Regions from separate parts of the Homo sapiens genome. Here regions 2, 3, 4, 5 and 6 are each linked to region 1. Evidence: fine-mapped expression QTL. A gene starts in region 1. Each other region holds a variant in brackets. All regions are shown on one strand. Distances are between the middles of the regions. Region 1 holds the start of RPRM (reprimo, TP53 dependent G2 arrest mediator homolog). Region 2 has its middle 45 kb from the start of RPRM. Region 3 has its middle 61 kb from the start of RPRM. Region 4 has its middle 25 kb from the start of RPRM. Region 5 has its middle 180 kb from the start of RPRM. Region 6 has its middle 160 kb from the start of ARL6IP6.

Evidence for each region. PIP is the estimated chance that this variant, and not a neighbour inherited with it, causes the effect. A credible set is the group of variants that fine-mapping cannot tell apart.
Region 2: its variant is the best candidate, but not a certain one, in a credible set for the expression of RPRM in whole blood (TOPMed, PIP 0.56).
Region 3: its variant is the best candidate, but not a certain one, in a credible set for the expression of RPRM in whole blood (INTERVAL, PIP 0.83).
Region 4: its variant is the best candidate, but not a certain one, in a credible set for the expression of RPRM in whole blood (TOPMed, PIP 0.63).
Region 5: its variant is the best candidate, but not a certain one, in a credible set for the expression of RPRM in whole blood (INTERVAL, PIP 0.67).
Region 6: its variant is the best candidate, but not a certain one, in a credible set for the expression of RPRM in adrenal gland (GTEx, PIP 0.85).

What each region holds. Positions count from the first base shown.
Region 1 is chr2:153,475,934-153,480,933 of GRCh38, reverse strand. RPRM (reprimo, TP53 dependent G2 arrest mediator homolog) reads left to right here and starts at 2,172. Exons shown (of 1, transcript NM_019845.3): 1 at 2,172-3,596. The coding sequence starts at 2,369. The coding sequence ends at 2,698. It also overlaps a transcript of GALNT13 not described here. RefSeq lists a silencer at 1,938-2,137 and enhancers at 2,494-2,997, 2,998-3,501, 3,502-4,005.
Region 2 is chr2:153,431,122-153,436,121 of GRCh38, reverse strand. It overlaps a transcript of GALNT13 not described here. Among named protein-coding and RNA genes, the nearest start is that of RPRM, 45 kb to the left of the region's middle. The variant G/A (reference allele first, on the strand shown) is at 2,889.
Region 3 is chr2:153,415,578-153,420,577 of GRCh38, reverse strand. It overlaps a transcript of GALNT13 not described here. Among named protein-coding and RNA genes, the nearest start is that of RPRM, 61 kb to the left of the region's middle. The variant A/G (reference allele first, on the strand shown) is at 2,944.
Region 4 is chr2:153,501,535-153,506,534 of GRCh38, reverse strand. It overlaps a transcript of GALNT13 not described here. Among named protein-coding and RNA genes, the nearest start is that of RPRM, 25 kb to the right of the region's middle. The variant G/A (reference allele first, on the strand shown) is at 2,440.
Region 5 is chr2:153,295,676-153,300,675 of GRCh38, reverse strand. It overlaps a transcript of GALNT13 not described here. Among named protein-coding and RNA genes, the nearest start is that of RPRM, 180 kb to the left of the region's middle. The variant C/A (reference allele first, on the strand shown) is at 2,942.
Region 6 is chr2:152,877,689-152,882,688 of GRCh38, reverse strand. It overlaps the pseudogene UBQLN4P2. Among named protein-coding and RNA genes, the nearest start is that of ARL6IP6, 160 kb to the right of the region's middle. The variant T/G (reference allele first, on the strand shown) is at 2,133.

The sequences.
Region 1 (5,000 bases):
GATAATGATTCAACTAACACTTTTAGCATCCTTCCATATTGGATCTTACAAATGTACTATAAACTAACTCTTGGTTTTTGTCACATAAAGAAGGGGCTCTCCATTTGCTTACACCTAACTTCTACTGAACACACAGTTCTGTACAACTTGATCCCTGGAGGTGGGCCTCTGTTCTCTGACCTTTTATTTTTCTAAATTTCTATTACTTTTCTCTACCATTCATCTCAGGATGACTTTATATTGCCTTAAATTTGTTGTAATTTTTTCCATGTATACATTACGTTTTATTATTCTTGAGGACTACCCACATTAACTAAGATAGACTGATTGTATGATGAGATTTAAGTAAATTCTTACTTATCAATTATTAATAAATTTCTTCAAAGAAGAAATTGCCGAGAGTGAGGTATTTTTCAATTCTAATTAAATTATGGGAAACTAGAACAATAAGCCAGTGAATTGTGGTAGAAGCCCAAGCCTGAATTTTCAGCTGTTAAACATCCCCCTCAAAATAATAATAGCTATTTTAAAAAATCAAACTTATTGCAGCTGATATACCATAAATATCAAAAAATTGAAAACTCAACCAGAAGGCATTTCATTCTATTTTATGATAGTCATGAAGCAGTGCAAAAACATTTAAGGAACACTCTGAAGATGGAATAAATGATGTTTTAAGAAACAGAAATAAGAGGATTTACCAAGCAAACAGAATGAAATTAAGAGTAGAGTTGAAAATGGCAAGACAGCTACTATTTTTCAGTTTTATTTTATTTTTAATTGACAACTGTACATATTTATGAGGTACAAAGTGATATTTTGATACACATATACATGTGGAATGATCAAATCAGAGTAATTAGCGTACCCATTATCTCAAATTTTTATCAGTTCTTTGTGGTGAGAACATTTAATAGAAAGTAAATGTATTCTATTGGAAGCTCAAGTTACTGGTTTCCAGCTGTTACAGCTGAAAGAAAGAGGGAGGAAGGCAGGGAGTAATGGGGAAAAGGAGGGAGGGGAAAGAAAACAGAAAAGGGGGAGCGGGAACATGCAATATTCTTTCAGAGTTAAGAAACTTAATCTGACAGGTTTATAGAATTTCGTTGGAACCTAGAGCAAAATCACAATGGCTGAAGCGTCAATCAGGCCTATAAAAACATCTGTGTTTAGTTTAAATGACTAAGGGTGAAATACATCAGCTTATGGAAAATGGGGAGGGCTCCCAGTATTTGGCCAGCGTTCTAGGTGATGGATGTTGATGAGCAATTCCCTTCAACAACTGATTTACTGCCAACGGACAAAATGCTGGAAGCACATCCAAAAACTTATCTGCAATTAAAATTACAAGCAAGTGGTCACTCTGTTCACCTCCTTTACCAGAGAGGTGACCCTGCTCCCGGCAACTACCTCCACCCAAGGGCCACAGAAGAACTCCTCCTTCCTCTAACCCTCTTTCCTTGGCCTCAAACCTCACGGTAAAACCTGCCTTGCTCTGTCTCCCAATCGCTTTTGTAAAGGAAGCTGGGTGTAGAGCTCTTCTTTCTCCCTCCCTTCCTTTTTTCTTTCCTTCCTTCCTTTCTTCCTTCCTTCTTCCATGCCTTTCTGTCTTTCCAAATTCATTGCTTTGTAAGAAACATTCTCAGATCACCTCCACTCCACTAGAAATCCAACGCAGGCGAGTCGGAGTCAAGCACAGGCAGTGGGCGGGTGGCCTCAGCCGGCACCATCTGGCACCTGCGATTCATCGCCACTTTCCATTCGCCCAGAGGTCAGGGGGGCAGCAGGCAAAGGACACGCAGAGCTCGTGTGTCCCAGTTCCTCTGAAACTTTCAGCTGACCGCACCCTCCCCCGACAAACTCTTTAATCATCCATCAAGCTAGAAGAGTACAGTGACCTCTGCCTGGCCTTTGGAGTTTGCAAAAGAAGCAAGCAATAAAAAGCAAGACCAGGTTCGCCCCTTTGCTTCCTCCACCTCCCAAGAGCAGCGCGCAGCGCGGCGGTGCGGCCGGAAGGGGCCGCTGTTTGCTCAGCGCAGCCACCCCGCCGCTGCAGCCGCCGCGGCCCGCACCTCCCACGGCCGGGCTGGTCCAGCCCCGCCAAGTTCCAACAGCCCCCCCTCGAGCGAGCGCCGGGAACGAGCACCACCAGGGCTGGAGCGGACGGCTTTAGAAGAGCCTAGCTGCTGCGCGCGTCGGAGAGGCTCCTGGGAAACTCCCACGGCCCAGGGACTTTCGAAAGCAGAGCGAGGAGCCCTCGCACGCGCTAGTCTGCGAGTGAGCGCTCAGCCCGGCACCTGTTCCTCCAGCGCCGCCGCCTTCCCACCCCTCGGACCCGCGCCGCTCGCGGCGCCCGCCCGTTCCTGCGATGAATCCGGCCCTAGGCAACCAGACGGACGTGGCGGGCCTGTTCCTGGCCAACAGCAGCGAGGCGCTGGAGCGAGCCGTGCGCTGCTGCACCCAGGCGTCCGTGGTGACCGACGACGGCTTCGCGGAGGGAGGCCCGGACGAGCGTAGCCTGTACATAATGCGCGTGGTGCAGATCGCGGTCATGTGCGTGCTCTCACTCACCGTGGTCTTCGGCATCTTCTTCCTCGGCTGCAATCTGCTCATCAAGTCCGAGGGCATGATCAACTTCCTCGTGAAGGACCGGAGGCCGTCTAAGGAGGTGGAGGCGGTGGTCGTGGGGCCCTACTGACCCGCCCTCTGCCCCCGCGGCAACCGCTCCCACGCCTGCCCACTTTGCTAGCCCGGCTGTGCCCCTCACTATCAGAGACTGGGCGAAGCAAACCTGTCGGAGTCAATTATTTCTCTCGACTTCGGCCTTTCGGAAAGAAGCGACCGGTTTCTCCCTCGCCCTCTGAAAGTCCTCATGCCTGGCAGTCGGAGGAGAGCGCCCAGACTCTGAACTCAGCAGAAAGTGGCAAGAAGAGGGCGATTAGGGCGCAGAACTTTGGAAGCTGCTACTTACTTGGAATGCGGGGAGACCGACGGTGCGAAGGCCCTTCTCCACCCGCAGGTGGGCCAAGCTCTGGGGGCAGGTGGAGAGGGCGGGCAGGGGAGAGACCCAGCGGCACTGATCGCCTTGTGACCGGAAGAGTGACCTGTTAAAAGCCACGCAGCAGACTCATGGGGTCTCACAAATCCGTGTCCGGGTGCGCTCCCACTCTTCTCCTGCTCCCCCCCTGCCCTGGAGGGGAGGGGCGATAAATACCTTTGATTGTAACGTGCCGTTTTAAGAGGTTTTGTGTTTGTTTGCTTGAATACAAATGTTTGATAAGTCTTTTTCTGCCCCAGTGGCCTGTTTGCCTGCCTGAGGAGTTACAGTTTTGTCATTGTGGGAGAAGGGGTGGGGGGAGGGGGAGCCTGCGAATTTGAACGGGGTGAGTTGTTTCTTTTAGTGCATTTCCCACTGGGTCTTTTGGGAGGCGTCTAGCGTTCCTGCTGGCCCTGGGACAAAGACCCAGAATAGAACTCGTAGCTCGTGACTGCACGGTTTACGCCACAAAAGTGCTCTTGACATCCGTGACACCGTTTTGACTTTTTGTTTTTTTCTTATTTAACATTTCCTTAATAAATGCAACATTTAAGCGTTTTGTTCCTGGCCTCCTGGTGGTCATTCTGCGCTCCCCAGCAGGGGGGAACGGGGCGGCGGTGAGGAGTCTGGCTCCCGGCCAGGGCAATTAACCCTGGAGAGCTGCGATTCAACTTGTGGATCCCCTGGAGGGGCGAGGGTGGGGCCAGACGGAGAGGCCCTGGGATGACTGAGAAGGAGCCCAGCCTCAGGCACAGTAGCCGTCCTGGAGGCAGCATCCTTTGTTTCCTCTTATCGTGAATATTTTATATTTCATTTAGTCTCAGCTCTCAGGTAGGCGAGACGACAGAAGGGCCCCCGCGGGAAGATTACACTTCCGTGCCAGGCTCCGGCGGGAACACAGGATTACACCGCTAATGAAAGGAAGAGACGGCTTGGACAGCCTTTAGGGAGGGCGTCTCTACCCTAACCAACGTCAGCCAGGCGGCTTTGGGATGCTGCCCACGGGTGGGGCCGGGGGGCGGAGGGAAGGGGAATTATAAAATGCGAGGAAAAGTAGCTGCTAAGGTACACAGTGACGTTAGTGACGTTAATGCTCCCTAGGGTAAACCATTGTTACTAAAACATGAGATGCATTACTGTCGTTGTGATATTACTTTTTCTAGCAAAAAGACCACGTTAAAAGATTCAGCCTGTTCTTTGTAATTTAGTATGCCCCAGACCAGGCAAAGGGTTGAGAGGAGTTAGCCGAGGTCCTGAATGTGGGAGATGAGTATTACAACCCCAACTGGGAAGGATATTTGGAGTAGAACTACAGATGGCCGTTGACACATTTAAGGTTCAGAAATTCAACAGTGTTAGAAAGAAACGCCTAAAAACCGTGCCTGTGAAAATAACCCAAAGGATACAATAGCTTCGAGCATAAACTTGACAAAAGGTTTTGAGCAGTTTATTTTTATGCCTGAGACAGGATCCTAAATATTTTCAAGACTATAAAGAATCCACTAGGATGCTATATAGCAATTAAAATTTCAAAGACTTCACAATGGCAGCTATAAGAGTAACTAAAATCAAATAATAATAAAGTGTTCCATTTACTCAGAAAGAAGCACAACTGGTGTAAACAATGTTAACGACTCAAAGATTGGGATCAAAAGTTTTGAGTGCCTTTAATGTCATATCCACTATTAAGTGTCCATTTCGCTCTCAAGTAAACCTTGTTAGAAATCACAACCTAGGATGGTTTTTTGAATTCTAATGGATATCAGGATTGAGAAAAGAGGATTTTGAAGTTTTGCTTGTTGTTCCTGTCTTTTAAACAGGTAAGGGTTTGTTTGCTTGTTTGTTGTTTTGGTATCTGGGCAGGGGGCAGGGTCAAGAGATAGTCAATAGGTAGTCAGTAGGAGTCTTGGAAAGCAATCTACTTTTGCTAACCGACAGGACAAGAAATGGCAATGTTCTATTT
Region 2 (5,000 bases), 45 kb after region 1:
CAGCATATAAACAGAACCAAACACAAAAACCACATGATTATCTCAATAGATGCAGAAAAGGCCTTTGACAAAATTCAACAGCACTTCATGCTAAAAACTCTCAACAAATTAGGTATTGATGGCACGTATCTCAAAATAATAAGAGCTATCAATGACAAACCCACAGCCAATATCATACTGAATGGGCAAAAACTGGAAGCATTCCCTTTGAAAACTGGCACAAGACAGGGATGCCCTCTCTCACCACTCCTATTCAACATAGTGTTGGAAGTTCTGGCCAGGGCAATCAGGCAGGAGAAGGAAATAAAGGGTATTCAATTAGGAAAAGAGGAAGTCAAATTGTCCCTGTTTGCAGACGACATGACTGTGTATCTAGAAAACCCCATCATCTCAGCCCAAAATCTCCTTAAGCTGATAAGCAACTTCAGCAGTCTCAGGATACAAAATCAATGTGCAAAAATCACAAGCATTCTTATACACCAATAACAGACAAACAGAGAGCCAAATCATGAGTGAAATCCCATTCACAATTGCTTCAAAGAGAATAAAATACCTAGGAATCCAACTTACAAGGGACGTGAAGGACCTCTTCAAGGAGAACTACAAACCACTGCTCAAGGAAATAAAAGAGGATACAAACAAATGGAAGAACATTCCATGCTCATGGGTAGGAAGAATCAATATTGTGAAAATGGCCATACTGCCCAAGGTAATTTATAGATTCAATGCCATCCCCATCAAGCTACCAATGACTTTCTTCACAGAATTGGAAAAAAACTACTTTAAAGTTCATATGGAACCAAAAAAGAGCCTGCATCGCCAAGTCAATCCTAAGCCAAAAGAACAAAGCTGGAGGCATCACGCTACCTGACTTCAAACTATATTACAAGGCTACAGTAACCAAAACAGCATGGTACTGGTACCAAAGCAGATACAGACCAATGTAACAGAACAGAGCCCTCAGAAATAATGCCGCATATCTACAACTATAAGATCTTTGACAAACCTGACAAAAACAAGAAATGGGGAAAGGATCCCCTATTTAATAAATGGTGCTGAGAAAACTGGCTAGCCATATGTAGAAAGCTGAAACTGGATCCCTTCCTTACACAGTATACAAAAATTAATTCAAGATGGATTAAAGACTTACAGGTTAGACCTAAAACCATAAAAACCCTAGAAGAAAATCTAGGCAATACCATTCAGGACATAGGCATGGGCAAGGACTTCATGTCTAAAACACCAAAAGCAATGGCAACAAAAGACAAAATTGACAAATGGGATCTAATTAAACTAAAGAGCTTCTGCACAGCAAAAGAAACTACCATCAGAGTGAACAGGCAACCTACAAAATGGGAGACAATTTTTGCAACCTACTTATCTGACAAAGGGCTAATATCCAGAATCTACAATGAACTCAAACAAATTTACAAGAAAAAAACCAAACAACCCCATCAAAAAGTGGGCAAAGTATACGAACAGACACTTCTCAAAAGAAGACATTTATGCAGCCAAAAAACACATGAAAAAACTCATCATCACTGGCCATCAGAGAAATGCAAATCAAAACCACAATGAGATACCATCTCACACCAGTTAGAATGGTGATCATTAAAAAGTCAGGAAACAACAGGTGCTGGAGAGGATGTGGAGAAACAGGAACACTTTCACATGGTTGGTGGGACTGTAAACTAGTTCAACCATTGTGGAAGTCGGTGTGGCGATTCCTCAGGGATCTACAACTAGAAAGACCATTTGACCCAGCCATCCCATTACTGGGTATATACCCAAAGGATTATAAATCATGCTGCTATAAAGACACATGCACATGTATGTTTATTGCAGCACTATTCACAATAGCAAAGACTTGGAACCAACCCAAATGTCCAACAATGATAGACTGGATTAAGAAAATGTGGCACATATACACCATGGAATACTATGCAGCCATAAAAAATGATGAGTTTATGTCCTTTGTAGGGACATGGATGAAGCTGGAAACCATCATTCTCAGCAAACTATTGCCAGGACAAAAAACCAAACACCGCATGTTCTCACTCATAGGTGGGAATTGAACAATGAGAACACATGAACACAACAAGGGGAACATCACACACCGGGGACTGTTGTGGGGTGGGGGGAGCAGGGAGGGATAGCATTAGGAGATATACCTAATGCTAAACGACGAGTTAATGGGTGCAGCACACCAACATGGCACATGTATACATATGTAACAAACCTGTACGTGGTGCACATGTACCCTAAAACTTAAAGTATAATAATAATAAAATTAAAAAAAAGTATAAGTAACTATCTGATAAGGCCATTATTTCTAATTTTTTCAAATATATGTTCGGATTTAATGATGTTAAAACTCTTCTCTTTTGAGGGTAAAAAGTTGTTGAAGTACATGGAGAGTTGGTTCAATTTTTTAATTTAAAAGATGAAGAAAATTCCTGCTCCGCTAAACTCTACCTTCTCTAGGTATTTGCTAAGGATTTTTTTTGCAAAGAATATGCTGACTCTGTAATTAAAAAAATGTATTATTAAAGTCTGAAACTTTACTTAGAAGTTATGTGGAATAGTTAATATTTATTTGAAAAAACAAGCATTAATAGGGAATGAGAAAAGAAAACAAAGTTAACGTGTACAGTATTCTATAAGAATAATGACACCAGGATAAGAGGATTGCCAAAGCCTAATTTGGAGTGGAAAATTAATTATCAAAGGTGTTACATATAATTGTCCACTAAATTATACTTGACATTAAATCAAGGGGAAATAAAAACACCTTAAATCATCCCATTGCCACTTCATGTGAACTATGAAAGAATGTGGTAGATCAGAACCTTCTAAGACCACAATTTCTTATTTTTTAAATGAGGGTA[G/A]CAAGATTGAATCCTGTTTCAAGTTCTCCTTTGAAATCAATGATGAGACTTTTTATTTTTACAATTTCCTCTCTTCTTAGAATAAATAGTCTCTTCATTTACTCTCACACAAAATTTCTCTAATTATTTCCATATTCTCTTACAGTAAGGCTTGACCTCTGAGCTTGTATTACTAGATAATATAGAGGAGAGTCTCCAAATGCTTGGAGTGTCTATGTATATGCCTGTGTGTGTGTGCACGTGCATGAGTGCGTGTTATGTGTGTTTAGCCCCCAAGAAGAAAAAATAAAAGACACTGCAAAAATTAGGTAGGTCATTAAATCAAGTAGGATTTTATGAAACTATTTTACAAATCATTCTGTTTGATGGACATTTATTATCTTTAAGAGGTAAGTTTAATCTAGGTGAAGTTATTTTCTGCCTTATTTTTAAATCATAATGTTGATTAAATCTTCAATAAAACAACTAAAATGAAACGTTGCACTGATTGCAATGCCCCCCAACCACCTCCCCACCCCCCAGCCAAAAACTCTGCAAAGGGTTTCTGTCAGAAAAACAGTCCAGAAGAAAAGGTGACAACTAGATCAGGTGGATGACAAGCAGCACTGGGGGTGGGGGATGGGGCAGAAGCTTCTGCCAAGCAATAGGTGAAACTTGAAACCCAAGTGTGTATTAATCTGAATCACTTGTCAACTTGTAGGGTCACTGACCTTGAAGAAATGAATTTATTTCCTGGTCAAATACTTTCTGAAAAGGTGCTCACATTTTAATCAATTTTCAGGCCCTCACTAAAGTCCAGATTAATTTGTGCAGCTCGAAAGTTAATTAAACCCCTTCTTCCAACAAAACAGATTCATTCCAAACCATTTGATTCCTGCTTATGACCATTTCTTAAAAATGCTTTTGAAAAAAATCCACTGGTGGTAACAGCAACTGAGGATCCCTGGGAGCCCTGGAGTTGTTGTTCACAGTCTTTGGAATACTATCCTGTGGCTTTTAGATAGGAGTGTTAACAATTTTCAACAACACACAAGTGTACTATTGACCTCTGTAAGAATCCACTCTAGGAAGCAAGGTTGTTGATTTCATGGAAATTGAAAAATCACAAATTCCTTCTCCTTTTTTTTCCCATTTCCAGTTATCTTAATATTTCCCAAACCAGAACACTAAAAAAGAAACAAAAAAATTAATTATTTAAAGATGTTATACAAGAAGAAAAAGTAGTTTGAAGTCTGAGTGTTCCTGGAAGTTTAAAATGTTCTTGCATATTTTTTAAAGCTTCCTAGGAGCTATTACAGCTGCAATACTTGAGGGAGAAATAAATGAAGTATGAATATGTGGTCCAATATAATGTGATTGTCTTCTGGCTGTAAATTCAACTGTCTTCACTGATTGTTGAGAAAGCAATGGTGTTATACATGTAACTGATTACTTTTTATAGCCATTCTGTGTGAAATATATTAGATGTTTAAAAGAAATGGGTGATCCCTTTCACAAAGATCTGAAAAAGGCAAACCCTCTCCATCATTTGACAGATGCAGAAAGCTGGAGAATGGCCTCCAATCCCATGCTAATTGTCTGTCCAGTAGAGCTCTCCTGTGAGGCAAAATGAGGGGCTAGAAGCCTAGAAAGGGAGCAGGAGGTTGAGCAGCACTTGCTGTGTCTTTTGTAATCAGATGAACATGGTCTCGAGAACCAAGGGGCAAAACTACTGCTAACTTCTTTGCTGTTTTTGTGCAATTGTAATTTAAATCAAGCCAAGTGTATACCTAGGTGAGGTTCTGTCCCTGCTCTCATCTGAAAAGCCACTATTGACAAGCTCAATTTTAGGATGGTCATTTATTAGCTGAAAGACATCTACACATGGCATGCCTCACGATCACCTCTATCACACTGAGTTTCAAAGCCAAAATAATGGTGAGCTCAGCAGAAAAAATCTGGAAAGATGCTCAAGGCCTAAGACAAAAAAGAAAGGGCAAAATTAGGTTATTAACTTAAACTAGGCAACTATAACATCAGTAAAAATTGTCCTAGTAAAATACAGTATACCTAATTATGTCAACTTTTTTTGTTTTTTTTTTTTTTTGACAGAGTCTCTCTCTGTTGCCTAGG
Region 3 (5,000 bases), 60 kb after region 1:
TTTTCACTCAGCGGTAATCATGACTTTTCCAAGTGTGCCTACAAGATTTTTCCATCATGTCTCAAATTAAAGGCTTGAAGTAAATAAAATAAAATAAAATTTCCATATACATGGAGATCATATTTGCTATATTTTTTCCTTTTAAATTTTTTTGAATTATCAGCAGAAGCATGATCTGTATGACTCATTTTATGCCAAAATATGTTATTTCTTAATAGTGTCATACATGTTTAAAAAATGAAAATGCTTTAATTCTTGAGTACAGATTTCTAATCTATCAACCTTACAATTTCTCTTTTTATTGTGGTAAAAATACATATAACATAAAATTACCATCTTAACCATTTTTAAGCATAAGGTCCAGTGGCATTAAAAACGTTCATAATGTCCTGTATACCTGTTCTTTACAGTCCTTATATGTACTAAATGTATATGCAGACTGGTGAATTGCTCCTTTTATTATTTTTCTGTAACCTTTTTTCCCAATAATGCTTTGGCTTCAAAATATATTTCTTAAACATTATTATAAGAAGTAACATCATCTTTCTTTGCTTATATTTACCTCAAATATAATTTTCCATTTCTTCACATTCATAATTTTGTGTCTTTATGTTTTAGGTAGGTCTGTTGTAAACTATATATAGATGGACTACTTTTTTAAAATCCACTTTGAGAAGTCTTGCCATTTAACTTGCAAATTTAGTCAATTTACTTTAGGTGTATTTCTACCATTCTTTTTAACTTTTTGAGATAATTGTATATTCACGTGAAACTAATTTTCACTTAGTTTCCCCCAGTGATAGCATAACTAAAGTAAATATTACAACCAGAAATTGACAATGATATAAACTGTTGACCTTAATTCCATTTACACTAGTTTTACATGCATTCATGTAGTGTGTGTATGTGTGTGTGCATGTATTTAGGTCCATGAAGCTTTATCACATGTAAATTTGTGTAACTATAACAATAGTCAATACAAAACAGTTCCATCACAAGGACTCCTTTCATTGTTCACACCCTTTCCTTGTCTACTTCCCTCCCTAATCCCTAAAAAACATTCACCTCTTGTTTGTCTCTATCATTTTGCCATTTTTTGAATGTTAAATAAGTGGAATCACGGAGGATATATGATTTTTGAGACTGGCCTTTTTCAGTCAGTATAAATCCTTTGAGAACATCTGATATGGCCTGGCTGTGTCCTCACCCAAATCTCATTTTGAAGTTCCCATAATCCCCACGTGTCATGGGACAGACCAGGTGGAGATAATTGAATCATGGACAGTTTCCCTCATCTGTTCTCATGATACTGATTGAGTTCTCACAAGATCTAATGGTTTTATAAGCCCCTTTTGCTCGGCACTTGTTGCTGCCACCATGTGAAGAAGGATATGTTTGCTTTCTCTTCCACCATGATTGTAAGTTTCCTGAGGCCTCCCCAGCCCTGAGGAACTGTGAGTCAATTAAACCTCTTTCCTTCAAAAATTACCCAGTCTCGGGTATTTCTTCATAGCAATGTAAGAATGGACTAATACACCATCCAAGTCATTGTATGAATTAATAGTTGTTTCTTTTTAATCTATGGTATGGAGATAAGAGACTCTCATTCAAAAACGGGAAAAACAGGAAGCACATAGCAGTCACTACTCCACAGCAATTCTTTCTCCAGTTCCTTCCTTCCACTCTCCCTTATTTTACCTTATTTATTTATTTACCTTTTCAGACAAGGTCTGGCTCTATCGCCCAGGCTGAAGTGCAGTGGTGTGATCTTGGCACACTGTAACCTCTGCCTCCCGGGGTCAAGCCATCCTCCCACCTCAGCCCCCTGAGTAGCTGGGACTACAGGCATGCACCACCATGCCCGGCTACCCTCCACTCTCTCGAAGCCAATTCTGATTTGGCTTTCTCTATAGTCCATCTACCAAATCTTCTCCTGTCAAGGTCATCCGTGACCTCCATGTTGCTAAAAACAATGTTCATTTCTCAGGCTTTATCTTACTTGACCTATAAGCAGCATTTGACATAGTTTATCAAATGACCATTATTCTACTTCCTTCTTGAAACACTTCCTCATTTGGCCCCTGTGACATGACACTCTCTTATCTATCTGTTTACTTCACTAACTACTCCTTTCTCAGTCTCTGCATTTACTTCCTATCCCTCTCTTGGCAAATTACAACAAACTTAGTGGTTTAAAGCAACACAAATTTATCTTACAGTTCTGGAGGTCAAAACTGCAAAAGGAGTTTCACTGAGCTAATATCACGGTGGCAAACCTTCTGGAGGTGCTAGGGGGGAATTTGTTTCCTTGTCTTTTGCAGCTTCTAGAGGCTACTTGAATTCCTTGGCTTGTGCCTCCCTTCTAGCAATCATATTACCTCACTGACCTCTGCTTCTGTCATCACATCTCTGTCTTTGGTTCTGATCCTCCTGCCTCCCTCTTATGAGCAGTATTCTGATTACATTGGGTCCACCTGGATACTCCAGGACAATCTCTCCAAAATATATTAACAGGTTTTGAAAGGCTGGGATGTGAGCATCTTTGGAAGGCCATTTTGCTGCCTACCACATTCTCTCTTGCTGGTTCTCCCACATCTTTCTAACCTAAACATTGGCATCCTTCAAGGACTCAATCTTCTGATTGTTTCTTCCCATTTCTATGCTTATTCCTCGTGTTAACTGTTACAGTGATTTATATGACTCATATCTGATATTATGGCTTTTAAGTTCCAAGTATATGCTGATGATGTTTAAAGGTATATATTCATCCTGGACTTTTCTACTGAGCTCCAACTGCATGTGTGACAATCTTACTTCGTATATCCAATGGACATCTCAAATTTAATATACTCCAAGTGGAACTTCTCATTTGTCTTGTATCCGAAAAGCTTATTCTCTAAAAGAATTTCTCATTTCAATAAACTTAAAGTTCCATATTTACTT[A/G]GAACAACACCCATAGACTCTCCTTTTTTACAATCTACATCCATTTTACCAGAAAATCCTGATAGTTCCATCTTCAAGACATATTCAAAAACAAATTATATTTCCTCACATTCCCCAGGCAGACTCATCCAAGCCACCATGATCTCTCGCCTGGATTATGGCAATATCCTCCTTATCCATCTCTCTATTTGCATTCTTTCTCCCTACTGTTTATTCTTAACCTATCAATCTAAGTGAAAGCATAAGTTAAATCATTTCACCTCTAGTGACCTCCTCTCACTCTGAGAGAGAGAAAACCAAGAAAATTGACTGGGCCTGCAAGGCCCTACATCATCTGCTCCCCGTCTCCCATAATTTCATTTGGTACCTCTATGACTCATCTTCTATTATTTTTCTCTGGCTTTCTCTGTTTCAGCCCTACCCACCTCCTTTTCATTCCTGGAACATTATTGGCATTCTCTCCCTGTAGGGATTTAGCACTGTCTCTTTTCTTCTCCTACCATGCTTTTCCCCAGATATCCTCTTTGTGTGCTTCTGTCCCTCCTCTTGGTCTTTGTTCAAATTTGACATTCTCAGTGAGGCTTCTCTGAAAAATTTGTGATCCCTACTTCTGACCTAGCACTTCCTATCTTTCTCCTCCACTTTATTTGTCTCCATATCACTCATTCCCATGCGATATGCTCAGAAGCCCTTCACTTCCATGGTCCCTTTCTAAGGTCCTGTATTCTTTTTCTTAAAGACAGCCCACAACTGATTCAGGATTCAGGTGCTACAAAAGTTGGATGTATTTTAATTGTTAATTGTCTGTCTCCTTCTGTAAGAGTGCAAGCTCCATGAGGGCAAGAGTATTCGGTGTTTTGGATCACTGTTGTATCATATCACATAGAGGAGTATCTGGCACATAGTATGTAATAAATATTTGTTGAATCAACTAATACAATCAGCAGAATTCACAAAGAAAAACACCAATAGATATAACCCTCTAAAAAACTAACTTCTGTATTTTACAAAAAATACCATAAACAGAATGGTAATCAGCAGTCTAGGAAAATATTTGCCACAACTTTGATAGACAAAAGTTGAATGCCTTTAACATACAAAACAGCAAGAACAAACCAAAACTATAAAAACCATGCAAATGAACAAGACAAAATTTAAGTATTCAGTGGGAAAATATGTAAGCAGTTATTCATCAGCTTTAGTGAAATGATGCCTTTGTGTCATTGGGATAAAGATTCATGTAGTTTAGATGGACGAAGTCAACAAATGATAATTAAATTATTTGGCTCAGTGCTTGTTCTTTGTTAATATTCTTACATTGGCACCATTCCAGTGTGTCTGGAAGAGACCTATGAGACACTGTGGGTTTCTCTCATAAAACAGAAGCAGTCACATGGCTTTGGACATTGCCTTTTTCAAAGACTACACAAGTACATTTTCTTTTTCTTAAGACAATAGTAACTTTCAGAGTATTTCTTAATATTGAATAAAAAAATAAATGATTATGAATCATAAACCACAAAACCAGAGGACTGCTTTTGTGCCACTGTAATTACCAACAACATTCATATGCTTACTCTAACACAGGGCCTAATTTCAGTAGATTTAGTGGTAGGCTTGTTTATTTATAGGCAACTTTCTTTAAACAATTACCTAGAATGATTAAACACTTTTAAATGGGTTGTGTCTGCTGCTATGGCAGAACTTTTTTCTTTTCACTTCATCTTGTAAACAACATTTACTTAATTCTTTTCTGATTATAGAAATAACTTCTGTTCATTTTAAAACTAGCTTAGATTGACAATAGACAGAGAAACATAAGAAAAATAGAGAAAGTTTTCCCTATTCTCACAGCAGAAACAGTTATCAGCACAGAAAGGTTTCTATTTTTGTGTATTTAGTTTACAGTAAATTTTAAAGTCCATTTTAGCAAAACTGAGATCTTACACTCTATATTATTTCACTTCTTGCTTTTGTAATTCAATTTCATATGGTGAACATTGTTTCATATCATTGTGTGTTGTTCAAAAATTTGCAAATTCAGTTTTAATTTTATA
Region 4 (5,000 bases), 26 kb before region 1:
CTAAGCCAGCACTACAAGAACTGCTCAAAGAGCTCTAAATATTGAAACAAATCCTGGAAACACAGCAAAATAGACCCTACTTAAACAGTAAATCTCACAGGACGTATAAAACAATAATACAATGAAAAAAAGGTATTCAGGCAATAAATAGCATGACAAATAGAATAGTACCTCACATCTCAATACTAACATTGAATGTAAATGGCCTAAGTGCTCCACTTAAAAGATACAGAATGGCAGACTGGATAATAACTCACAAACCAAGTTTCTGCTGTCTTCAGGAGACTCAGTTAACACATAAAGACTCACGTAAACCTAAGGTAAAGGTGTGGAAAAAGATATTCCATACAAATGGACACCAAAAGCAAGCAGGAGTAGCTATTCATATATCAAACAAACTGTAAAGCAGCAGGAATAAAAAAAGACAAAGAAGGACATTATATAATGATAAAAGTTCTAGTCTACAGGAAAATATCACAATCCTAAATATATACGCACCTAAAACTGGAGCTCCAAAATTTATAAAACAATTATTACAAGACATAAGAAATGAGATCAATGCCAACACAATAATAGTGGGAGACTTCAATACTCCACTGACAGGTCATCAAGACTGAAAGTAAACTGTGAGACAATGGACTTAAACTATATCCTAGAACAAATGGACTTAACAGATATTTACAGAACATTCTACCAACAGCTGCAGAATATACATTCTATGCATTAACACACGGAACATTCTCCAAGATAGACCGCATGATAAGGCACAAAACAAGTCTCAGTAAATTTAAGAAAATCAAAATGATATCAAGTACTCTCTCAGACCACAATGGAATAAAATTGGAAATTAACTCCTAACAAAACCCTCAAAACCATGCATATATATATATAGAAATTAAGTAACCTGCTCCTGAATGATCATTGGGTCAACAATGAAACGAATTTTTAAAAATTATTTGAACTGAGCAATAATAGTGACACAACCCATCAAAACCTCAGCAATAGTGGTGCTAAGAGGAAAATTCATAGCATTAAATGCCTACATCAGAAAGTTTGAAAGAGCAAACTGGGGTCACATCTCACAAAACTAGAGAAACAAGGACATTCCAAACCCAAACCCAACAGAAGAAAAGTAATGACAAAGATCAGAGCAGAGAATTAAATGAAACTGAAACAACAAGAACAATACAAAAGATAAATGTAACAAAAAGCTGGTTGTTTGAAAAGATAAATAAAATGATAGACCATTAGTGAGATTAAACAAGAAAAGAAGAGAGAAGATCCAAATAAGCTCAATTAGAAATGAAATGGGATATACTGATACCACAGAAATACAAAATATTATTCAAGGCTACTATAAACATCTTTATGGACATAAACTAGAAAACCTAAATGAGATGGACAGATTCCTGGAAATATACAACCCTCCTAGATTATACCAGGAAGATATAGAACTCTGAACAGGCCAATAACCAGCAGCCAGATTGAAATGGGAACTAAAAAATTGCCAATAAAAAAGTCCAGGACCAGATTAATTTACTGCTGAATTCTATCAGACATTCAAGGAAGAATTGGTACCAATCCTACTGACACTATTCGACAGGAGAGAGAAAGAGGGAATCCTTCCTAAACCATTCTATGAAGCCGGTATTACCCTAATACCAAAACCAGGGAAGGACATAACAAGAAAAGAAAACTACAGACCAATATCCCTAATGAACATAGATGCAAAAATCCTCAACAAAATACGAGCTAGCCAAATCCAACAGTATATCAAAAAGAATCCATCATTATCAAGTGGGTTTCATACCAGGGATGCTGGAATGGTTTAACATCTGCAAATCAATAAATGTGACACACCACATAAACAGAATTAAAAACAAAAATCATATGATCATCTCAATAGACACAGAAATAACATTTGACAAAATCCAGCATCCGTTTATGATTAAAACCCTCAGCAAAATCGGCATAGAAGGGACATACCTTAAGGTAATAAAACCCATCTATGACAAACCCACAACCATCATTATACTGAATGGGGAAAAGTTGAAAACATTCCCTTTGAGAACTGGAACAAGACAAAAATGCCCACTTTCACCGCTTCTATTCAAGATAGTACTGGAGGTCCTAGGCAAAGCCATCAGACAAGAGAAAGAAATCAAGAGCATCCAAATTGGTAAAGAGAAAGTCAAACTGTTGCTGTTTGCTGATTATATGATTGTATACCTAGAAAGCTCTAAAGACTCATCCAAAAAGCTTCTAGAACTGGTAGATGAATTCAGCAAAGTTTCAGGATACAAAATTAATGCACAGAAATCAGTAGCTCTGCTATACACCAACAGCAACCAAGCTGAGAATCAAATCAAGAACTCAACCCCCTTTTACAATAGCAAAAAATAAAATACTTAGGAATATACCTAACCAAGGAGGTGAAAG[G/A]TTTCTAAGAAGAAAACTACAAAACACTGCTGAAAGAAATCACAAACAACACAAACAAACAAATGGAAACACATCCCATGCTTGTGGATGGGTAGAATCAATATTCTGAAAATGACCATACTGCCAAAAGCAATCTACAAATTCAACTCAATTCCCATCAATATACCACCATTATTCCTCATGTAACTAGAAAAAAAAATCCTAGAATTCATATGCAACCAAAAAAGCCTGCAGAGCTAAAGCAAGACCAAGCAAAAAGAACAAATCTGGAGGCATCACATTACCCAACTTCAAACTATACTATAAGGCCATAGTTGCCAAAACAGCATGGTACTTGTATAAAAATAGGCACATAGGCTGGGTGCAGTGGCTCACACCTGTAATCCTAGCACTTTGGGAGGCCGAGGTGGGTGGATCATTTGAGGCCAGGAGTTTGATACCAGCCTGGCCAACGGGGTGAAACCTTGTCTCTACTAAAAATACAAAAATTAGCCGGGTATGGTGGTGCACACCTGTAATCCCAGCTACTCAGGAGGTGGAGGCACAAGAATAGCTTGAACCCAGGAGGCAGAGGTTGCAGTGAGCTGAGATTTTGCCACTGCACTCCAACCTTGGCAACGGAGCAAGTCGTTGTCTCAAATAAATTAATTATTTAAAAAAAAAATAGGCACATAGACCAAATGGAACAGAATAGAGAACCCAGAAATGAAGCCAACTGATCTTTGACAAAGCAAACAAAAACATTAAGTGGGGAAAGGGCACCCTATTCAACAAATGGTGCTAGGATAATTGGCAATCCACTGCAGGAGAATGAAACTGGATCCTCATCGTCTTACATTATACAAAAATCAACTCAAGATGGGTCAAATACTTCAATATAAGAACTGAAACCATAAGGATTCTAGAAGATGACATTGAAAAGATCATTTTAGACATTGGGTTAGGCAAAGACTTCATGACCAAGAACCCCAAAGCAAATGCAACGAAAACAAAGATAAATAGATGAGAGTTAATTAAACTAAAAAGCTTCACAGCAAAAGAAATAATCAGCAGAGTTAACAGACAACCCACAGAGTGGAGGAAAATCTTCACAATCTACACATCTGACAAAGGATTAATATTCAGGATCTACAAAGAATTCAAACAAATCAGCAAGAAATTTAAAAAAATCACATCAGTGGGCTAAGGACATGAATAGACAATTCTCAAAAGAAGACATACAAATGGCCAAAAAACATGAAAAAATGCTCAACATCACTAATTATTAGGGAAATGCAAATGAAAACCACAATGTGATACCAACCTTACTCCTGCAAGAATAGCCATGATCAAAAAATCAAAAAATTGTAGATGTTGGTGTGGATGCAGTGAATAAAGAACACTTTTACATTGTTGGTGGGAATGTAACCTAGTACAACTATGGAAAACAGTGTGGAGATTCCTTAATGAACTAAAAGTAGATCTAACATTTGATCCAACAATCCTACTACTAGGTATCTACCCAGAGAAAAAGAAGTCATTATACACAAAAGAGACTTGCACACGCAAGTTTATAGCAGCACAATTTGCAATTGCAAAAATATGGAACCAGCTCAAATGCCCATCAATCAATGAGTGGATAAAGAAAATGTGGTATATATATCATGGAATATTATTACTCAGCCATAAAAAGGAACAAAACAATGGCATTGGCAGCTAGCTGGATGGAATTTGAAATTGTTATTCTAAGTGAAGTAACTTGTGAATGGAAAACCAAACATTGCATGTTCTCAGTCATAAGTGGGAGCTAAGTAATGAGGATGCAAAGGCTTAAGAATGATACAATGGACTTTGGAGCTTGGGGGAAGGGGTGGGAGTTGGGTGAGGGATAAAAGACTACACATTGAGTACAGTGTACACTGCTTGGGTGATGGGTACACTAAAAATTAAGAAATCACCACTAAAGAATTTATTCATGTAACCAAACACCACCTGTTCCCCCAAAAACCTATTAATATAAAAATAAATTTAAATAAATAAATAAAATGCCTCACAAAAAATAAATAATTTTTTTTAACTTTTCTTACTAGTCAGACTTCTGCTTTGTCTCTCTCTGTGCAAACTGGTTGTAGGAATGGTAAAAATTACTGTATTCTCTGCCCCTCCGTGAGTTCAAAAGCCAGAAGTATTGGCCATTTGGCGTGGCTAAGGTTGGGTAATAAGAGAATTAAAAGGACTTATTTTAAAAGGAGTGCTATGGTTAAAAGCCAGCTTAATTAAAAGCGGATAGCCAAGCTGTAGTTATATTTCAAAAGCCTTTATGTCTTTTCTCTTTGTGGATCTTGTTTTTCTTAAAAAAAGTTTTTTTCTTCTCAGTCGACTGAATTATTTTTCTCCATTTTATCTTGGCTCTCTTAATGCACATATGAGAAGCCCTAAGATAACTTCTGATGTCCAGGGACTCCTTGGGAAAAACAAAGGAGGTGGCCGGGTGCGGAGGCTCATGCCTGTAATCCCAGCATGTTGGGTGGTCGAGACAGGTGGATCACCTAAGGTCAGGAGTTTGAGACCAGCCTGGCCAA
Region 5 (5,000 bases), 180 kb after region 1:
TCTAGAATTATGTCCCACAACCTCCAAAAGAGTAGCTTTTACAAATTGTTATCTATGTAGTCTTGATTCAAAGTAATGACATTGGTTTGAGGAAATGTAGTCAGCAAATAAGAATTTTAACCAAAACTCAAAATATTTGCTTACATAAAAAATGATAAGGCTCCAAATACATAGTCCTCAGCAATCCCCTTTGCTTTCCTGTCCATTTCCATTAAACTCCAGATGCTTCAGACAGTCTTGTCACAATTATCCCAGCTTTCCCTGTACATCCAGCCCTCACATAAGTATTGTTTTCTTTTTCACCCTTCTGCAATTCCTTTACCGTATACTGTAGCTTGACCCAACATCTCTCATATCAATTAAAAACACTCCCTCTAAAGGAGCTGAGAGAGTGAGAAAAATTCGACTATCACAGGATTCTAGAGAGAAGAAAGTGGGGAACCTACCCATGTTAATTCTTATTGCACCTAACTAGGGGAGCGCAAACTAAAGCACAATTTGAAGTATTGTTTCTTCTCTTCACCTGTTCCTTAGTAACCAACCCACTTTTCCTTCTTGATATAAAATCTCAGTAACAGTAATTTGAGAACACATTAGCTGTTTCCTAACAGCTTGTGGAATGTGGCCCTTCTGAGCTCTAGAACAGCTGTGGAATCCAGGAATAGCTGTCAGAATATTGCCTCAATTTGAGACCTACCGGTGGCAACTGTGGCTGTACTCGGCACCACGGGATGATGTTAGTGGGTGATAAGGCAATGCAAATCTTGTGAAATTGTCAAGGACAGAATGAGAACAAAAGACTACCAATGGGCAGATGGCTGAAATGCTACAAATATGGAAAAATGAACAATTCAGGTATAAAAATTGAAAGTGGTTGAATGAAAATTTGATTCAATGCCAACGAGCAACTGTGTTGGAGATCCTCCATTCAGCCCTCAAGGTCTGCTCCCTGCCTTTTCCCACCAAGCTCTGCTCCAAAGGGCTGATCTGTATTGATTGTGTCCACAAGCTCCCTTGACTTTTGGCTTCCCATTGGGTTTTCCAAAGAGAAAGAGGAAAAGGAAATCACTGGATGGGAAGAGAGAGAGACTGGCTAAGGATTTTATTTTTCCAGCTCTCTGCTGCATCTTCGAAAAAGGCTATAGGGCTGTCAGATAGCCTTGGCTGTGAAGATTCTCTTTCTGGTTTCTTCCTTGCCCCTTCAGGTCTGGGTTGACTAACAGTTCCTATTATTGCTAGCCCTTTAGTACTGCAATATCCCTTTTGAATTTCCCTATAAGCCCCACCCATTCTTTTATAAGTGATTTCTTCATTCAATTCCCCTCAAGTACCTAGTTTGAGTGTGTTGTTTCCTGGCAGCATCCTAGTTCAGAATTCTTAAAAGCAAACAAAATAAAAGATGACTGTGCTCTGAAACAACGTTGCAAATAATTTCTCAACAAAATTTTTCTTCGTTCTTATATCTTCCTACAATTTTCTGTCATCAATATTCTTTGTACTATGACATATCCTCCTTTACCTAGTCTAAAGGAAAAAATTCTGTCACATAAAATACAAAAGAAACCTTATTCAAAATTCTATTATTTGGATTTGGATTGCATTATATTTTTTGGTATGGAGTGGGGAATACATTTGTCTTCAAAGATGTCTTACGTTTGTGCTCCAAAATCAGCTTGCTTTTGAGGGTTGAGAGTAAAATGGACAACCTAGAAAATCATTGAATTGTAAGAAAAAATATCTATTCCTTTATGAAAATGTGACTGTAATTTTCATAAAGTATTGATCTTACCTTCCAGTAACATACTCATGAATACAGAGACAGAATTATTTGAAGAATATCAGGGGAGCTCCCAACTATTCCAAATTATCTCTCTCTTGCAAGTGCTAAACTGCTTGAAAGGTTTTCATAAGTTATTCCTTGGGTTTGGTTAAGCATTACCCCATCTTTCTGTCCTCTATTCTCTTCTTTGCAGATACATTATTCTGGATAGCAGAAACCATAAAAAGAATCACTAACAGCTCAAAGTGAATTTTCTATTGGATTCTTTCTTGTTATCAAGGGTAAGGAATTCAGAGTGCCTAACAGAACAGGGGTTTGTAAATGTGAGAAGCTGTACTAGCAACCAAAGAAGGCAAATATAACAATTATTCATTAATCTCCTGCTAACATTGAGTTCACTCTGACATAGGAGATCACCACTCTTATAGTATTTGCTGCACTTGGGTAACTGTAAGACCTAAAAATGTCTTCAGGAACTGAATCTTTAATAGTGGAATATCAGTCCCAATGACAGATGGTTTGAGCAGGAGGTGTCATGTGATCTTCAGTCCGGTCACGAAGGTGACCTGATAGTCCGTAGATATGTACATCTGTCTTTGAGTGTGTGATCTGCATGGCTTCTCTGCACAGTTACACCCTAATTTGCACACTTTCAACTCATGTTCCACCGTTAAAGTCACAGGCCACCTAAGCATCAAGGAAGTAAAAAAGTAATCAAATTTAGAAATAATAGTAGTGATAGGTAAAGAAGAACCAGAATAACAACAGAAGCAGCAGTAACAAAATTTCGGTCCTGGGAGAAAGAAGGCGCACCTTTAATTCTCTGAGATAACCTGCTCATTTGTATGAGTACATTCCAACTTTCTCCTAAATTACATGCTCAGAACCAGCCTAGTTTAGCTGCAAGAACTCCTAAGAATTCCTTTATGCCCAGGTGTGTATTCTATTCTTGAATCATAATGTTTTCTCTCTCCATTGGATTTGTTGAATCACCCAGTTTGAAGGATTTTTCTAATTCAAACCTCTTTTCAGTCAGCACATTGTGACACCTTCATTCAGAGAGACCTGCTCTTGCTATCTACAAAAGGAATATTTAACTCTGCCCTAAACTCAGCACATCCACTATTGTTAGCCTCAGCAACTGCACTGCAACAATTTAGT[C/A]CTTTAGTGGAGCCTGAATGACTGCTCATTATTTACTTTCTTTTCTCATTTAGTATCATTTGTAAACCTGAAATTTTGCTTTCCAAATCAGTCAGCTCATCCTTGTACATTACAATAAAGTTAGTGCCTAAATGTTCACACTTATCATTTCAGAGACAAATATAATGGGCTACATTTCTAAATTTTTACTGCATGTCTCTAACTCTACCTTGTCAATCCCTTAAGGGAGTATTCTTTTCCCTCCCTGTTGTGTGCTGAATACACAGTTAAAATTCTTTCTCTCAAAACTACTCTGCAATTTTATGCCTCTTCCAGTTTTCTCTTTATAAATGTTCAGGTAACTTTTCACATTTTCGTGTCTTAAATTATCCTCACTGCTTCACAGTTGCAAATAGAAAAATAAAGATCTCTTTTGGGTTGACATTTAAAGGTTTGTTATTCTGTCTTTGATATATGAGTTTAATGCTCATTAACACTAAAACAAACCAGCTGAGAAAAGAAAAAAAGCAGCTGCCTTCAAAGATCCTGGAATAAATAATGTAACACAGTCTCTTCTTTTCTTCCTCACTAAAATGATATTAACAAATTCCACATTCCTTCAAAGTAAGCTTTTAAAAGTTTAATACTGTCTGCTTTCACTTTTCAAAGGTGTGCTGATGGCATCCTAGAGTCTGATTGCTTTGTTAGGAATTCTTTTTCCTCAAAGGAGATGGAATATACTCTCTTCCATTCTATTTTTATATGTGTGCTTTAAGATTAATTTTAAAAGATTTCAAAGCACCAAGTATTTGAAATTAAATATAAATCATGTGATCCTATGGGAAACATCATGACTGCTTGGTTCTCCTGTGATTTAGGGAGCTACATAAGCAGGGAATTTTTTTTAAAGAAAAACATTTAACATGAGTAAATCAATGCTTTTCCTTGATAAAAAAAAATTGAGAATCCATTTTTGCTCAGTATTTTTACAAGTTTTATTTCCATGTACATTTATTTCTCTTTTCTATCACAATATTTTAGACTAAAGTGAAAATATGCTGTCTCTTCAAGTAACTACTAGAAACACAGTTTCTATCTGGCCCTTTAAATCACACCCTTTCATTCTGCGTCAGTCAGGAATATATCCTGCCACTTGAGTATAATGGCAATTTCACTTAGCTTTTAACAGGTGACCTGTCATGTATGAATCACATACTGGAAACAGTATAAGAAATCTGCTGTTTTCTCTCTCCATTATGAACTTCTAATTACTAAAACGACATTAAACCCTGGAATTTATGAATATTTGAAACACTTGGATTTTCTGAAACAAATATGAAATTCACAAAAGGGATAAGGAAGTTGTTAATTTTGCAAGGTAGGTGCCAATTATCAGAAGTATTTTCTCGGTATCTTAAGCTCAACAGGTAGCCTTCTATTCACTATTACAGTTTTGGAAACAGAAATTCTCCAGGAATGGGAGGTCCAGGCACCTGTGTTGGTTGATAACTTCCATTCCCTCCTGGGGTCCCCTTTCTAGAATTTTCCACTTACTCAAATTCTCTTTCCTCAAGTTTCAGTTCTTAATGCTGATCAGGATTATCACAGGGTTCAGTTTTGTGTAGCAGACTGAATGCAGAGATAACAAGATAGCTAGAGTTTTCCTATCTGATGGGCCTCACTCCTGCAGTCTGGAGAGCGGAGCAGCATTTTCCATAAGCTTGTTGACACACAGTCAAAGACTGAGTGGGCGCTCTAATGTGTAGCCCTTGACCCTTGCTATGCCAAACAGAGAAATGAGAATTCAGCAGACTTGATTCAGGGAAAACCAAAAGTCAGATGTACCAAGTCCCAATTGTTTCTCATTCCATCTTAGGAGACATTTTATTAGCCTTCAACGCTGAGGTTTATACCACTATTTCTGATCCTTCAATGTGCCTGTAAATCCCTGAGAATCTTCTTATGATGCAGATCCTGATCCAGTATGTCTGGAATTTTTCTCAAGATTCTGCATTTCTCACAGAGAAACTCCCAGGTGATGCTGGTGCTAGTGAGATACTGGTCCATAGATCACACTTTG
Region 6 (5,000 bases), 600 kb after region 1:
TTTAAATAAGTGGGATCAAGATCCTAAAGAATTTCTTCAAAGTATTGTGACAGAAGATAAAGCATGGCTTTGCCAATACAATCCTGAAGACAAAGCACAATCAAAGCAATGGGTACCAAAAAATGGAAGTGGTCCAATCAAAGCAAAAGCAAATTGATCAAGAGGAAACTTCACGGCAACCATGTTTTGAGATCTCAAGATGTTTTGCTTGTGGACTCTCTAAAGGACGAAAGGATGATAATATTTGGCTATTAGGAGAGTGGTTTGAGATAGCCATCGCTTTAGCGGAAAAACACCCAGGAAAACTTTATCAGAGAGTCCTCCACCATGACAATGCTTCTGCTCATTTCTCTTATCAAACATAGCCAATATTGCAAAAGTTTTGATAGCAAATCATTAGGCACTCATCTTACAGTCCTGATTTGGCTCCTTCTGATTGGTTTTTGTTTCCTAATCTTAAAGGGGTATCCATTTTTCTTCAGTTAATAATGTAAAAAGACTGCAGTGACATGGTTAAATTCTCAGGACCCTCAGTTCTTTATAGATGGACTAAATGAAAAAAAATGGACTAAATGGCTGGGATCATCACTTACAGAAGTGTGTTGACCTTGATGGAGCTTATGTTGAGACATAAAGTTCACAACTTTTATTTGCAGCTCTTAATTCCATTCTTCCACAGACTTTATCAACTCCCCTCGTGTGTAGGAAAAGACATATTTTAGAGGTGTATCAGGCAGTTAACGAAAAACATAATGTAACTTTTGTGAGAAAAAGAAGAATCTTGAAGGGTCTGAAATTTTACCCTATTTGCAAACAGGAAATTGGCCTAGCACAGTTTCATGGATACTGGCAGAAGACATAGCCTCCTAGGTCAGAGACAATGGACTTTATTAGTCACAGTGATAACAGTAGCCAGAGGGTTATCATTTATTTTCTTGTGTCAGTTTGGTTGACCCAGCTTCCCCAGGGGGATGTGAAAGGGGCCAGGGAACACCTGCACATGCAGTGAGTTGAATTATAGGAGAGGGACCCTGAGCTTCAGGAAGCCAAATATTTTATAATGTGCAATAAATCATCAGTGCAGTAAAATGCCTGCCTTTGCTCTGAAGTAAAAATCCATCTCTACCTTCCCAAACTGTAAGCATATCTGCTCTTTTCCTTGCAGGGAGATACTGTCTTTATTGCTATCTTTCAAGGCTGTTTGCTATACAAACATCCTTGAACAAAAAATCTGAAACAAAGGCAACCAGTGCCTCTACTCACAAGATACACAGAAATGCAAGAGACCCATGGAGAGTTATCTCCTGACAAACAGACAATCTTCCAAGATTAACTCTTATGATGTCAGGAGATAACTCTCCATGGGTCTCTACTTTCCAATCTTCTCCCATTAGAAAAAGGTGGAAAAGAAATATTATCAGAGGAAAAAAAGCTTTCCATTAATGCAAGGAGATTAAAATAGCGTTACCATATTTGTACAAATTTAACCTTGTTTAAATGACAATCCCTTCTAGGGATTGTTATTTCTCTAGGCTAGCATGCTAGAGCTTGGAGCTTGATATTGTTTGGATGTTTGTCCCCTCCAAATCTCACGTTGAAATGTGATGCCCAGTGTTGGAGGTTGGGCCTAGTGGGAGGTGTTGGGTCATGGGGACAAACTCCTCATGAATAGCTAGGTGCCCTCCCCCCAGTAATGAGTGGTAATGAGTTCACATGAGATCTGATTGTTTAAAAGACAGTGGCACCTTCCCCACATGTGCTGCCTCTATCTTGTGATGTGCCTGCTCCCCTTTCCTTCCACCATGACTAAAAGTTTCCTGAGGCCTCACCAGAAGCCAAGCCAATGCTGGTGCCATGTTTGTACAACCTGCACAACCGTAAGCTGAATAAACTTCTTTTCTTTATAAATTGCCCAGCCTCAGGTATTAAACAGCAACACATAATGTCCTAACACAGGGATTATCCAGCTCTTTGGGGATTTTTACCCTCCATTGCTCCCACACTCATCCTCCCCTGTGGGACCCAGGGTTTTTCAGTCTCCCTGTTTATTTTCTCAGTGACTGTCACCATAAATCATGCACCTTCTAATTGTAGGAAAGTTATTTGCTACTTACAGAACTATGGCATTGTCA[T/G]GACTCCCTTCCGTTATCTGTTCATTTGTGTATTAAATTGCCCCAAGCTGTGCTCTTAGCCTCTCAGAAGAAACACCATTTCTTGGAAACTTCCAAAACTGACATGGAAATTTTTTCTCTGAGAGTTAAAGGATTAGAACTGAGTTATGTGTATTTCTTCATGCAGTGTAAAATGAGGAATAGTGAAAATTCAGAAAAAAGAAACCTTTATTATAAATCTGAAAAATCACATATTAAAAGCAACCCGCCAGCATCTTCTCTGATCATATACAACATTAAAAATGATTCCACATCAACTTTGTAAATAATTGTTCTCATATGAGCCCATAACTTCACAAGGCACAGCAGTATTTTTCTGTGTGCATGATATTCAGAAAATCCCTGAAGAAGTGAGGGTTTAGCACAAATCCATATTTAATCTGTCTTGAGAAGAAGTCTAGATTTTTACAATCATCTTCTCCTAAGCACTGAAGGGGCCCAATGTCTGAAAGAATGACAGTGGCTGTTTGTTGCTGTTGTCTTCTTTTTTACCAGCTTTATCGTGGTAGGATTCATAAATAAAAATTGTATATATTTATGGTGTTCAATGTGATGTTTTGTTGTACATATTTATTATAAAGTGATTACCACTATCAAGGTAATTAACATATTCATCACCTCAACTTACATAATTGTCTTCCTTTTTTGTGGTAAGAACATTTAAGATCTACTCTCTTGGCAAATTTCAAGTATTTAATATAGTATTCTCAGCTATAGAAGAGTGGCAGTATTTCATTTTTTATCTGGAATAACACTTTCAACTCCCGTTCTCTTTTCTACCCTTCCAAAAAGAAAATAAGAATGAAAATTAAGCATTATTCTCCCCTTCAGGGAGGGACAATGTCCTTGTTATGCAAGGCAATAATAATGGTTACTGTTCCCATGGCCCTCTAAGCACTTCATATACATTCACTCAACCCTCACAACCTTAAAGTATATTCTGCTGTTTTCCCATTTTAAAGATGTGGAAACACAGGCAGGTCCTGGGTTCACGGAATTGTGTGTGTATGTGTGTGTGTGTACACACGTGTATGCACATGTACCCACATGTGCATAAACATGTGTCTTTGAGGAAGTGGAGCCAATATGACCACTTGTGGGCCATACACTTAGCTTCACTGAGCCCCTTTCTTCCAGTTCCATCAGCATCTCCAAGTCTCCTCTACCAGACGCAGGCCTGGTTTCAGCTGCCTGAGAGAGCTATTATGCTTTCACTCCCTGTCACTTCCAACTTCCCAGCCTTATACTCAGGCTGTCTTTCCCCATTTGCTTCCTCCAGAAAAATCTCATTCTCTCTTCTTCTGCATCAATCTCCATTGGGCTGGTCCAGAGCTTCTCAATTCCTGTCCAGAGAGCTGTGTCTTATCTCCTCCTTCAGAAAGGGAAACAGGTATCTTCCTCTTTGCCCTGGGAGTCCTAACAGAGCCCATGAAAGAGTACTGGATGAAGTGACCAGAATAGGGGCTGAGGAGCCTGTTTCACTTACCCTTCCTTCAGAGTGTGAATTCTACCACTAATTAGGCTGAGGAGTGGGTGGGCAGTGAGAGGAGGTACGGACAGAGGAAGAGAGTTACCAAAAGTAAACATGAGATGAACAAAACCCTACCTAGTGGTACAGATGGAAGACCCTGTTTCAGAAAGCTAGATAGTTGGTTCCTTCTTTGATTGTGCCTGCCACTGAGAGATTTGAAGATTGTAAAAGGTGGTGTGGGACAAGGAAGCAGGACCAATCAAAATTGTGAAAAATTTTTAAATAGCTCTGCTCAGGGAGGACTAGGAGAGAAGATTCTGTTAGAGGCACACAGTAAAACCAAAATGCTCAGACCTACAGGGTTGGGGCTCATGCCTCTAAAGTCACTTCAGCTGTTTGGAGAGGACGAGAGAGAAGAGAGAAGGGACAGAAAACTGCAGAGGATAAGATGTGACAGAGGAACCGAATGCTAGCATCAAGTGAGGGAGAGGCAGGAGGCACAGGCGAAGGGAATAAGAGAGCAGGGAGCTCAGGAGTCTCTCAATAGCTGAGTTGCTGTCTTCTCCTTTGGCAATCAGGGCCTACAGGTTGGCCCCACCATTGAGCTCATGTTGTTGAGCTGCTCCAGTTGCAGTTGCTGCTGAAATTTCACTTCTAGTGTCTGCACCAGTGAGTTTCCACATCCAGCCAAAAGCTGGGTCATCTACTTCATGAACTACTGCTGGGCATCAGAAGACCTGTTAGGGAAGTTGTGCCTGGCATGGCTGGGAAAGAGCTGGGAGACTTGGGCACAGACCTGAAGCTGCTGTCTGCCAAGGGTGCTGGAGTCTGAAACATCCCAAAGAAATCAAGGCTGGGTACCAGCCAGAAGCCTCAGTCCACTAAGTCTCCAGTCCCTGCTGTATCTACAACAGCATCTGCAAGAATTGACAAAAAGTGAGAGTGACTCCACATTCTGCATCTGTTACAAGAAGACTGAGAGCTGCAGGCAGAGCTGCTCCTGCACTTAGGGATTCCCCAAAAAAGTGGCATCTAAGCATCAAAGTTAGGGTTTTGGGTAAGCATCTGCATCATGCTATCCATGCAGGGAGCTGAGATCACATTCTGCATCATCTGGGAGTTCTCAAAGATCTGCTAGAGGAGGGCCTGTATTCCCGGGCTATTGAACATCCCTGACCACAGACTAACTGCATTAATTGCAAAGAAGTTTGACACTGTCGAGTGCATCTGGCTGGCCCCCAATCCTCCAGTGCCCTCCCCACCAGACCCAGGAACCTGGGAGATATGGGGTGAGGGATTCCACAGGTTAGGGAGGGGCTCTCAATTCTCAGTTGGGAGGATGAGCTAGGTCCCTATAC